Linked DNA regions of Homo sapiens: all the other regions are reported to be linked to region 3. Evidence: microRNA targets listed by miRTarBase, many of them from high-throughput screens and not tested one by one. Region 3 holds a microRNA gene; each other region holds the end of a gene's coding sequence.
The links. The annotated mature microRNA hsa-miR-4438 reads CACAGGCUUAGAAAAGACAGU and lies in region 3 at 1,316-1,336, shown strand. An mRNA with a match to its seed (bases 2 to 7 or 8) in the 3' UTR can be bound and repressed. Matches are read on the target gene's strand: a 7mer-m8 pairs with bases 2 to 8, a 7mer-A1 pairs with bases 2 to 7 and ends in A, and an 8mer does both.

Region 1 (3,000 bases), not on the chromosome of region 3:
TGGGAAAATGGACTTTAAGAGCCATTTAAAAGAACTTTAGAGTTATCTATAGTTTACACAAAAATCTCAGCTCTGTCTACCTAAACTAGACTATGTCATACATACTATATAATGTTTCAAGTCACTGAAATATTTTTTTCTTTTTAAGTTTTGCTCCAGATTACTATGATTGGGGACAACAAACTAACAGCTTCCTGGCACAAGCAGGAACTTTGCAAGACTCAACTTTGGATCCTGACAAACCAAGCCTTGGGTAGCATCAGTTAACAGTTTTATGGACGATTCCTCAGATGAAAAGCTTCAGAAAAGCATAGTGACAGCTGAATTTTTAGGGCACTTTTCCTTAAGAAATAGAACTTGATTTTTATTTGTTACAGGTTTCCAATGGCCCCATAGGAATAAGCAATAATGTAGACTGATAAACCCTTATTTTAGTACTAAAGAGGGAGCCTTGCTATTTCAGTGGGTATAATTTAAACTTTTTAAAGAAAATCTGTACTTTTATAAAGATGTATTTTGTATAACTTAAATAATAATGCTAAAGTATACTAGGGTTTTTTTTTCTTGAGAATGTTACTGCAATCATGTTGTAGTTTGCACAGACTTTTATGCATAATTCACTTTAAAAATATAGAATATATGGTCTAATAGTTTTTTAAAGCTTTTGGACTAAAGTATTCCACAAATCTTACCTCTTTAGGTCACTGATGGTCACTCCGATTCTGAGTGCCACATTGGTAGACTCCTAAAATACAGTTGACAACTTAGCCAATTGCAACTCCAGTGTTGATAATTAAAATGAAATGGTAAAGCAGCAGACTGTAAGGTCTTTAGAGATTTTTTTTTTAAGGTTCAGGCCGTAGGTTCCTCAAGGAATCTCTTAAGTTTTGCCCAAAGACTGGTACTTCCTTTCAGTAGGGCGCTAATGTATACACATTAATGATAAGTTGATAACATTAAAAATGTAGCTGACTTATCCTATTAAACCTCCTCTGCTATGTTCACAGATTCTGCATAGTTTTTTTTCAGCCTAATGAAATCTAATATGCATTACCTCAGGGCCACATCAAGAATACACCCCTTTCCGAACTCACTGAATGTTCATTACATTCAAGGAGAAAATAAGAGGGTCCATAAAGGGCATTAATAACAAATACCCCAAGCCGTTGAGCTAAGACTATGTGGAATCCTAATAGTTTTTTCCGTAATCTCCAACTATATTTAAAATAATGCCCTTCTAAATAGCTCTGTAAAGAGCCTATTGGAAGCTGCACATTTAAAAATGGCAATAGCACTGCAATATGCTGTAGCATGATGCCTGTCAGCCATGTTCCAGACAATTCCTTGTAAGTCATCTTTCATTTAAGTAAAAAACAGGTTATGAAGTACTGCCTCCCAGACCGGAAGTGCCATTCTAAAAACTCCACTATATATATCCTGGAGCCATAAAACTGCCTATTGGGAGGCTAAATGCTCTGCTTTTCTATAAAACAGAGATAAGGTTCTAGAGGAAGTACTGTTACCAGAAACAAGGCACGTTTCTTCTCTGCCTAGGAATGCTCATCTGGGGACAGAGGGAAGGTTCAATGAAAAGGAACTTATATTAACAAGTCCTACTACATGATGCAACCCATTTCAAATGACTCCTCTCATTTTGATCTTCAGGAATAACTGATCTCTGGGCATTGATTTCACAGATGAAGTCTACTATTGTTTTGGTAGTATTTAAAATTGGGATCTCAAGTTTCAAATTGATCATCATTGGGCTTTTCATGTGTATAGAACACCTTCACTCTGCATAATCCTACATAACAACATTCTTGTCTTCTAGTACATGAAAAAATTGGGGTAACATAGCATTTAAAGTAGTTATCAGGGAAAAGTCTATACTGAAGTGAACCCTACACTGTTATTCAAGTTGCCTTAACACATTATAAGCTATTATTCTAAATAGCTTTAACAGATTATTGTGGTCACACTGTATTACTAATAGTTAATTTAAAGGCAGACTCAGCATGTTTTAAACTCCTTTAAGTTACATCTTCAGAAAGTCCTGAAGTCCTTCAGTATTAGGTCAGCTAAGGGAAGATATATTTTTAAAAATAGTGATAAGACTATCACTAATATCATACTCATCCTGTAATATGTAAACACAGTTCTGTTGTTACTGGCAGAAAAATTGGAATACCCAGCATTAAGTGAGAGAAGTCAGCCTACTTTTATGATGAAGCTACTGGGATTTATTTGAACTATTATTTTTGTTAGATAGTATAAAAATGTTCTAAGTGCCTATTTTTCTCATTCCCCTTTTAAAAATGTAATGCTAAAATTTCTAGAAGTGTTGTAAACACGGAATACAAAAAAACTATGATTGATTACTCAAACTCTCCTTCCTTCTTAGTAAGGAAAATTAAAATTCCCTTTGGCTTTCTAATTTACTTGTTCTACTAGGTACACTAACAAAACTACTTCTGGCTGGGCGCGGTGGCTCACGCCTGTATCCCAGCACTTTGGGAGGCCGAGGCGGGAGGATCACAAGGTCAGGAGATCTAGACCATCCTGGCTAACACGGTGAAAGCCCGTCTATACTAAAAATACAAAAAATTAGCCGGGCGTGGTGGCGGGTGCCTGTAGTCCCAGCTACTTGGAAGGCTGAGGCAGAAGAATGGTGTGAACCCAGGAGGCGGAGCTTGCAGTGAGCGGACATTGCGCCACTGCACTCCAGCCTGGGCAACAGAGCAAGACTCGGTCTCAAAACAAAACAAAACAAAACAAAAAAACTACTTATGTGGAATATTAAATGCTAAGAGGAAAAGGAATGGTGATTACTGGTTGCAAAATACCCAAATGTCCTCTTGTTTTAAAGCAACACGATGAAATTAAAGCCCTGATGATTAGAAAGTTGAAGTATATGGGGAAGAGGGAATCACTGAAAATTTTGTGCCATCATTTAGCTAAGTCTGATGGAACACTGAAAAGTTTCATGTGAACGTTTCTGGG
Region 2 (3,000 bases), not on the chromosome of region 3:
ACTCCCTTGCTGGTTTAATTGTGTGGACCGGATAGGGAGCTGGGTCCTAGGCATGCAGCACTCTCACAGGCACTGGAGGGGGTCTTGTACCCCAGGTCTGCATCCAGGCTTGATGCCTGTGGTGGAGGGGAGGGCGCCAGTGTGATGGGAAGACCTCCTCTCACTCCCAGCTCAGACTCGCTGTTGTCTCATGTGGAGCAGCTGCTCCGGGCCTTCATCCTGAAGATCAGCGTGTGCGATGCCGTCCTGGACCACAACCCCCCAGGTGTGTCCACTCCCCACCCTCTCTTCCCTTGGCATTTCCATGGTTATCTCGGGTTGGTCTGTGTTCCCAGGTCCATGTTTGGCTGTTCTGAGACTCATCTCTTCCTAACCCTGAGAGTCCACCTCCTCTGGGAAGCTTCCCTGATTGATTCTACCTGGCTTCCATCTCCCTATTGACTGGGGCTTTTCTTAGCACTTGCTTTGCCATCTGCTCTGGGGGTGCTGCTGAGCCAGCAAGGGAAGTGGGAAGAGGCTGGGCCCAGTGGCTGGCACCAGGGCGGTGGGGGAGCCTCCACCAACCTCTTGCCTCTCCAGGCTGTACCTTCACAGTCCTGGTGCACACGAGAGAAGCCGCCACTCGCAACATGGAGAAGATCCAGGTCATCAAGGTGAGATGAGATGGGTCTGGGTCTGGGCGCAGGCTCTAGAAACGTGATGTCGCAGTTCCAGGCGGGCAGGGGCACTGCCTGTGGCCAGCCACCCATTACATTGGTGTGGCAGCGCCTGGCACCCAGCAGGTCCTCAGGCCTGTCCACTGCTCCATCTGGGCACTTGGGGCAGTGAGGAGCCCAGGTGGAGCCACCTACTGGGGCCCCCAGCTCATCCTGGCTCTTCTGAAGTGGGGGCTCTCCAGGGAGGGGTCCTAGCCCACCAGGTTCAGCGTTGGTGCCTGGAGCCTGTTCGTCACTTGGGTTCTATGGACTTGGCCTCTGTGGGGGATGGGGGCGGTCCTGGGGTCTGCATCACCAACAGCTTCCTAGTGATTCTGAGGCTCAGGTTGGAGGCCCCTGGTCTGGAGTGGGAGGGACAGCAAAGTGAGGGCAGGCCAGGGCCCAGCCCCGTCACCCCCCTGACCTTTGTCTCCTCCCTAGGATTTCCCCTGGATCCTGGCGGATGAGCAGGATGTCCACATGCATGACCCCCGGCTGATACCACTAAAAACCATGACGTCGGACATTTTAAAGGTGAGCTTCGTGGGGACCCGGGAAGCTTTATTTAGGGGCTGCTTAACGAAGTGAGGCCCGGTGCTGAGGCCTTACTAGAGGGCTTGCGGGAGAGAACGGGGGAGTGCCTGGTGGAGGGCTCCTCCCATCTCTACTCTTCTCCACCATGGCTATGGCCACGAGGCCCCACCTGTGGTGGAGGTCTGCCCACCAGGGGCTTCTGTGTCCTCCAGCAGGGATGCCCTGGCTGTCTTGCTGACTGTGGCTGTTTGCTTGTGTCCGTCAGATGCAGCTTTACGTGGAAGAGCGCGCTCATAAAGGCAGCTGAGGGGGCACCTGCCACCCCACTGATGCCCAAACTGTCAGACTTTGGGGGATCCCCGCCTAGGGCAGTGCTGCATGGCTGCCCTGATTCCAAGTGCTCTTATCGCCTCTGTGTGTGGATCGCCCGCCCCAGCCCGGGGCCGCTCAGGTCTGCTTGGAGGATGCCTCCCCCAGGAGGGCAGTGAGGGATGCCGCAACCTCGACTTCTCAGCCTCCTGGGGTTCCGCCGGCCAACACTGTCTGTCTCAAATACTGTGCTGTGAGTTGTTTCAATAAAGGGGCCCCAAGGGCTGGGCTGAGCTGAGCCATCATTAACTGGAGTGGGAGGGACAGGTATGGCCAGGGTAACCTGGGAGAGGGGCTGCTTCTCCACCAAAATGCCAGGGACCCCCTCTCCCCACTCCTAAAACCAACCCCAGGCTGGTTTTACTGAAAACATTTATTTTTTATTTATTTATTATTATTATTATTTTATGAGCCAGAGTCTCGCTCTGTCACCCAGGCTGGAGTGCAGTGGCGTGATCTCGGCTCACTGCAAGCTCTGCCTTCCGGGTTCACGCCATTCTTCTGCATCAGCCTCCCGAGTAGCTGGGACTACAGGCGCCCGCCACCACGCCCGGCTAATTTTTTGTATTTTTAGTAGAGACAGGGTTTCACCGTGTTGGCCAGGATGGTCTCTATCTCCTGACCTCGTGATCCACCTGCCTCGGTCTCCCAAAGTGCTGGGATTACAGGCGTGAGCCACAGTGCCCGGCCTGAAAACATTTATTACAACAAAACGTCAGAGCTATGTGACAGTAAGTTACCACAAGCTGGTAGGGTTGAACCGGGGCAGGAGTCGCTGGTACAGGGACCTCACTGCCCACCCCATGCTCAGCTCCTGCCTGGAGGAACCTCTGGCTGACCCAGACACAGGATGGACAGCTGTCAGAAAATCTGGACAACAGCTCGGTAGGGCGATTGGGCAGCCTCCTCCTGTCCATGCTTCTGCCCAGGCTGAGCCTCGGAGGAGGCCTGGTTCCTGGTCATCTTGGGGCTGACGACAATGCTGCTGTTGGTGACTCGGGGCCCATACCAGCCTGCCCAGTACTGGGTGTCCCTGCCCCCATGCTGGAAGAGGATGTAGCGGACACCCCGGGGGTAGTCTGAGAAGGTGTAGGAGACCTGTTGGGAGGAAGGGAGAGGAAGTGACCACCGGGACGGGGGAGGGGAAGGCAGGAGCCAGGTCCTCTAAGAGAGCTGCCCAGGCTGGAAGGCAACAGCTCCAGGCCAGCAGGGGCACCCTGGGCCCTGAGGCTGCCCTTTGCTTCCTGCCATCCTGGCCCTGGGAGGAGTGGGTAGAGAGAGCAAGTGGGTGAGGCCTCACCTCTGTCCATGTGGCATTGTTCCACTGTTGGATGGTCACAGGTGGGGGCTCGAAGGAGGCCAACACGAAGTAGTCAGCCGAGGCCAGCTGCACTTTGAGTTG
Region 3 (3,352 bases):
AAATTAAATGATGTAATAACTGTTATATTCAGCTAATATCTCAATGATGGCTTTGAGGCAGTTGATAGTAGATAGCTTTTTTAAAGAAGTGTTTTTGAATGTTTAGCATATGAAACCCTTATGGTGTTGTCTTTATAGAGCAAAGAGGGAATAAAGAAATGGAATGTAAAAAATCCTAAATATTCCACATAAAAAAGCTTACTAGAATTAATAAATGTATTCAGCAAAGTTGCAGGACACAAAATCAATATGCAAATATCAGTTGTGATTTCATATACTAACATAAATCTGAAACGGAAATTTTTAAAAATTGGGTTAAAATAGCATCAAAAATACATAGAAATATAAACTTAACAGGAGACTAAAGACTTGTTCTCTGAAAACTACAAACATTTCTAAAGAAAATAAAGATGGTAATAAATAGACATATATATTCATGAATTAGATGACTTAATATTGTTGTCCATACTACTTAAAGCTATCCACAGGTTAAATACCATCCATATCAAAATACCCATAGCTGTTTTTTTTTTCTGAAATAGAAAAAGCAATTCTAAAATTCATATGCAACCGCAGAGAACCAAAAAGAGCCCAAACAATCTAAAGAACAAGCTGGAGGTCCTGCACTTCCTGACTTCAAAGGATATTACAAAATTACAGTAGTTAAAACATTATGGAGAAATAGTTATAGAAATATGGTGGAGTAGGAAGCACCAGGAATCTGTCTTCCCACCTAGAGAACAATTGTACTGGCAGAATCTGTCTGATATATAACTATTTTGGATTTTTGACATCTACTAAAGGCTTGCAACTTCTAGGGGAAAGCTTGCATGGCGAATTATGATTAATTTCAGTCAATTTCAGCACTTAACCACAGTAGTAGCTACCCATTTCCCACAGTCACCCCTGTAGCAGGCAGCTGTGCACATGTTACTGGAGCAGTCTGCACAGAGCATGCAGGAACCAGAGTGGGCAAAAAAAGGACCTGTCATCCAAATATCGGCAATCTTTGCTCTGATTGCTGATTGCTGTTTCTGGTCACAAAGATGGACGCAAAGAGGTGAGTGGTTATTGTTGCACCTCTATCCATTATTGCAAGCCCCTCCCTGCTGGCTGAAGTGACTTCCAGAAGATTAAAAGGGCCAGTGCCCTTCTCCTACTTTATTTTTCTGTTTTTCCCCCTTTGACAGCTAGACATTAAAAAGTAGGGCATTCAAAGTAACTGCACATATGGTGACAATCAGAAAATGACTAAGTTACTAAGTGTAAACTTAAGGACTGTCTTTTCTAAGCCTGTGCCTTGCCTTTCCTTTGGCACAGGCTTAGAAAAGACAGTCTTTAAGTTTACACTTCAGACTGATTCTTGGCACAGAGATAGCCTACAACAGAATCCTCTTATGACAATATAAAAAGCAAAATCATTGACTGAAGTAACCGCAAACTCTCAGTAAGAGGGAGAATCTAATTTTTAGAGTTACTATGTTATTAGATCCAAAATCACAATTCATACAAAAAATTAAGAAACTATGTCTTGTCCAAAGGAAAATATGAAATCCCTAAAATGACTTGATGGTGGATCTGCTACAGAGGGACTTTAAAATAATTGTGTTAAATGATCAAAGAACTACAGGAAGATATAGAGAAAGTCAAGAAAATGATATATGAACAAAATGAAAAAAATTCAATGGATAGGAAACCTCACAAGAAGTTAAAAAAAATTGGGAGCTGAAAAGTACAACAACTTAAATAAAAAATTTACTAGAGCGATTCAAAGGAAGATTTGAGCAAGCAAAGGAAACAGTCAGTAAACTTGAAGATAGGACAATGGAAATCAAGGAACAGAAGGAAAAAGAATTGAAAAAAGTAAACAGAGTCTAAGGGACCTGTGTGACACAATCAAGGAGTCACAGGAGGAGAGGAGAAAGAGAAGAGAAAACTTGAAGAAACAACGGATAGAACCTTTCCAAATCTGATAAAAGACATTAATATAAACATTCAAGAAATCCAACAGAATTCAAGGAAGATGAACTCAAAAAGACATAAACTGAAATACATTATAATCAAAGCTTTAAAAGGTGGAGACAAAGATAGAATCTTAAAAGCAGCAGAAAAACATCAATATATTACTTATAAGGAATAATCAGTAAGATTATCAGTATATTTCTCACCAGAAACGTTGCAGGCCAGAAGGCAGTGGGCTGACATTCGAAGTGCTAAAGAAAAACAAAAACAGAAAACATTATCAAACAAGAATCTTATATCCAGCCAAACTGTCCTTAAAGTGAGGGCGAAATTAAGACATCCCCAGGAAAACAACAGTTGGGAGAGCTTGTTACCATTGGACCTGACTTGCAAGAAATCCTCCTGCAGAGTGAAATGAGAAGACACTAGACAGTAACTTGAAGTTGTGTAAAGAAATAAAGATCTTAATAAAGGAAAATACATAGAAAATTATAAAAGCTTATATTATTGTAACAATACTTTTTAACTGCACTTTTCGTGTTCTACATGCTTTAAGAGGTTAATATATATATATTTAAATTTGTATAAAAGTTCATATTATGCTTTGTAACTCCAATTTTGTTTTGTACATAATTTAAGAGACTAATGAATTTAAAATACTTACATGTTTATATTTTTGTATAATACATAAAGATATAATTTTGTGACATCAAAAATTGAGAGGGTGGGGGAATGGAGCTTTTGAAGGAGCCGAGTTTTTATATATTATTGCAGTTATGGTGGTACAAATTTAAATTAGAATGTTATATATGCAGGATCTAAAATATAATCCCTATGGTAACCACCAAGAAAATAGCTATATACAAGGAAATGAGAAAGAAATTTAAGCAAATCACTAAAGAAAATAAAATAGACAACTAAATATAAAAGATAGTAATGCAGGAAATGTAGGGAAACATCTATAAGCTATAACGAATTCAAATAGTGGCTGGGCGCAGTGGCTCACACCTGCAATCCCTGCGCTTTGGGAGGCCGAGGTGGGTGGATCATGAAGTCAGGAGATCGAAACCATCCTGGCCAACATGGTGAAACCCTGTCTCTACTAAAAATACAAAAAATAGCTAGGTGTGGTGGCACATGCCTATAGTCCCAGATACTCATGAGGCTGAGGGAGGAGAATCACTTGAACCCAGGAGGCGGAGGCTGCAGTGATCCAAGATTGTGCCATGGCACTCCATCCTGGGTGACAAAGCAAGACTCTGTCTCAAAAAAAGAAAAAAAAAAGAATTCAAAAATAGTAAAATGACAGAAGTAGCTTCCTTCTTTTCAGAAATTACTTATAAATTGATTAAATGAGCTAATCAAAAGACTGGCAAAATAGATTTTTTTA

Region 1: miRTarBase lists GPR137B as a target of hsa-miR-4438. The part of its 3' UTR that is shown has no 7-base or 8-base seed match.
Region 2: the mRNA of FBXO6 is a reported target of hsa-miR-4438. Seed matches in the 3' UTR shown: 7mer-A1 at 2,262-2,268 and 7mer-A1 at 2,128-2,134.

What each region holds. Positions count from the first base shown.
Region 1 is chr1:236,207,902-236,210,901 of GRCh38, forward strand. GPR137B (G protein-coupled receptor 137B) reads left to right here. Exons shown (of 7, transcript NM_003272.4): 7 at 149-1,006. The coding sequence ends at 257. Among named protein-coding and RNA genes, the nearest start is that of GPR137B, 67 kb to the left of the region's middle.
Region 2 is chr1:11,673,311-11,676,310 of GRCh38, reverse strand. It overlaps FBXO6 (F-box protein 6), which reads right to left. Exons shown (of 6, transcript NM_018438.6): 5 at 2,899-3,000; 6 at 1,957-2,696. The coding sequence ends at 2,460. MAD2L2 (mitotic arrest deficient 2 like 2) reads left to right here. Exons shown (of 9, transcript NM_006341.4): 6 at 171-265; 7 at 580-653; 8 at 1,137-1,229; 9 at 1,495-1,831. The coding sequence ends at 1,536. Among named protein-coding and RNA genes, the nearest start is that of MAD2L2, 6.3 kb to the left of the region's middle.
Region 3 is chr2:213,756,807-213,760,158 of GRCh38, forward strand. MIR4438 (microRNA 4438) reads left to right here and starts at 1,261; the gene lies at 1,261-1,353. The region is part of intron 10 of SPAG16 (sperm associated antigen 16); the gene reads left to right.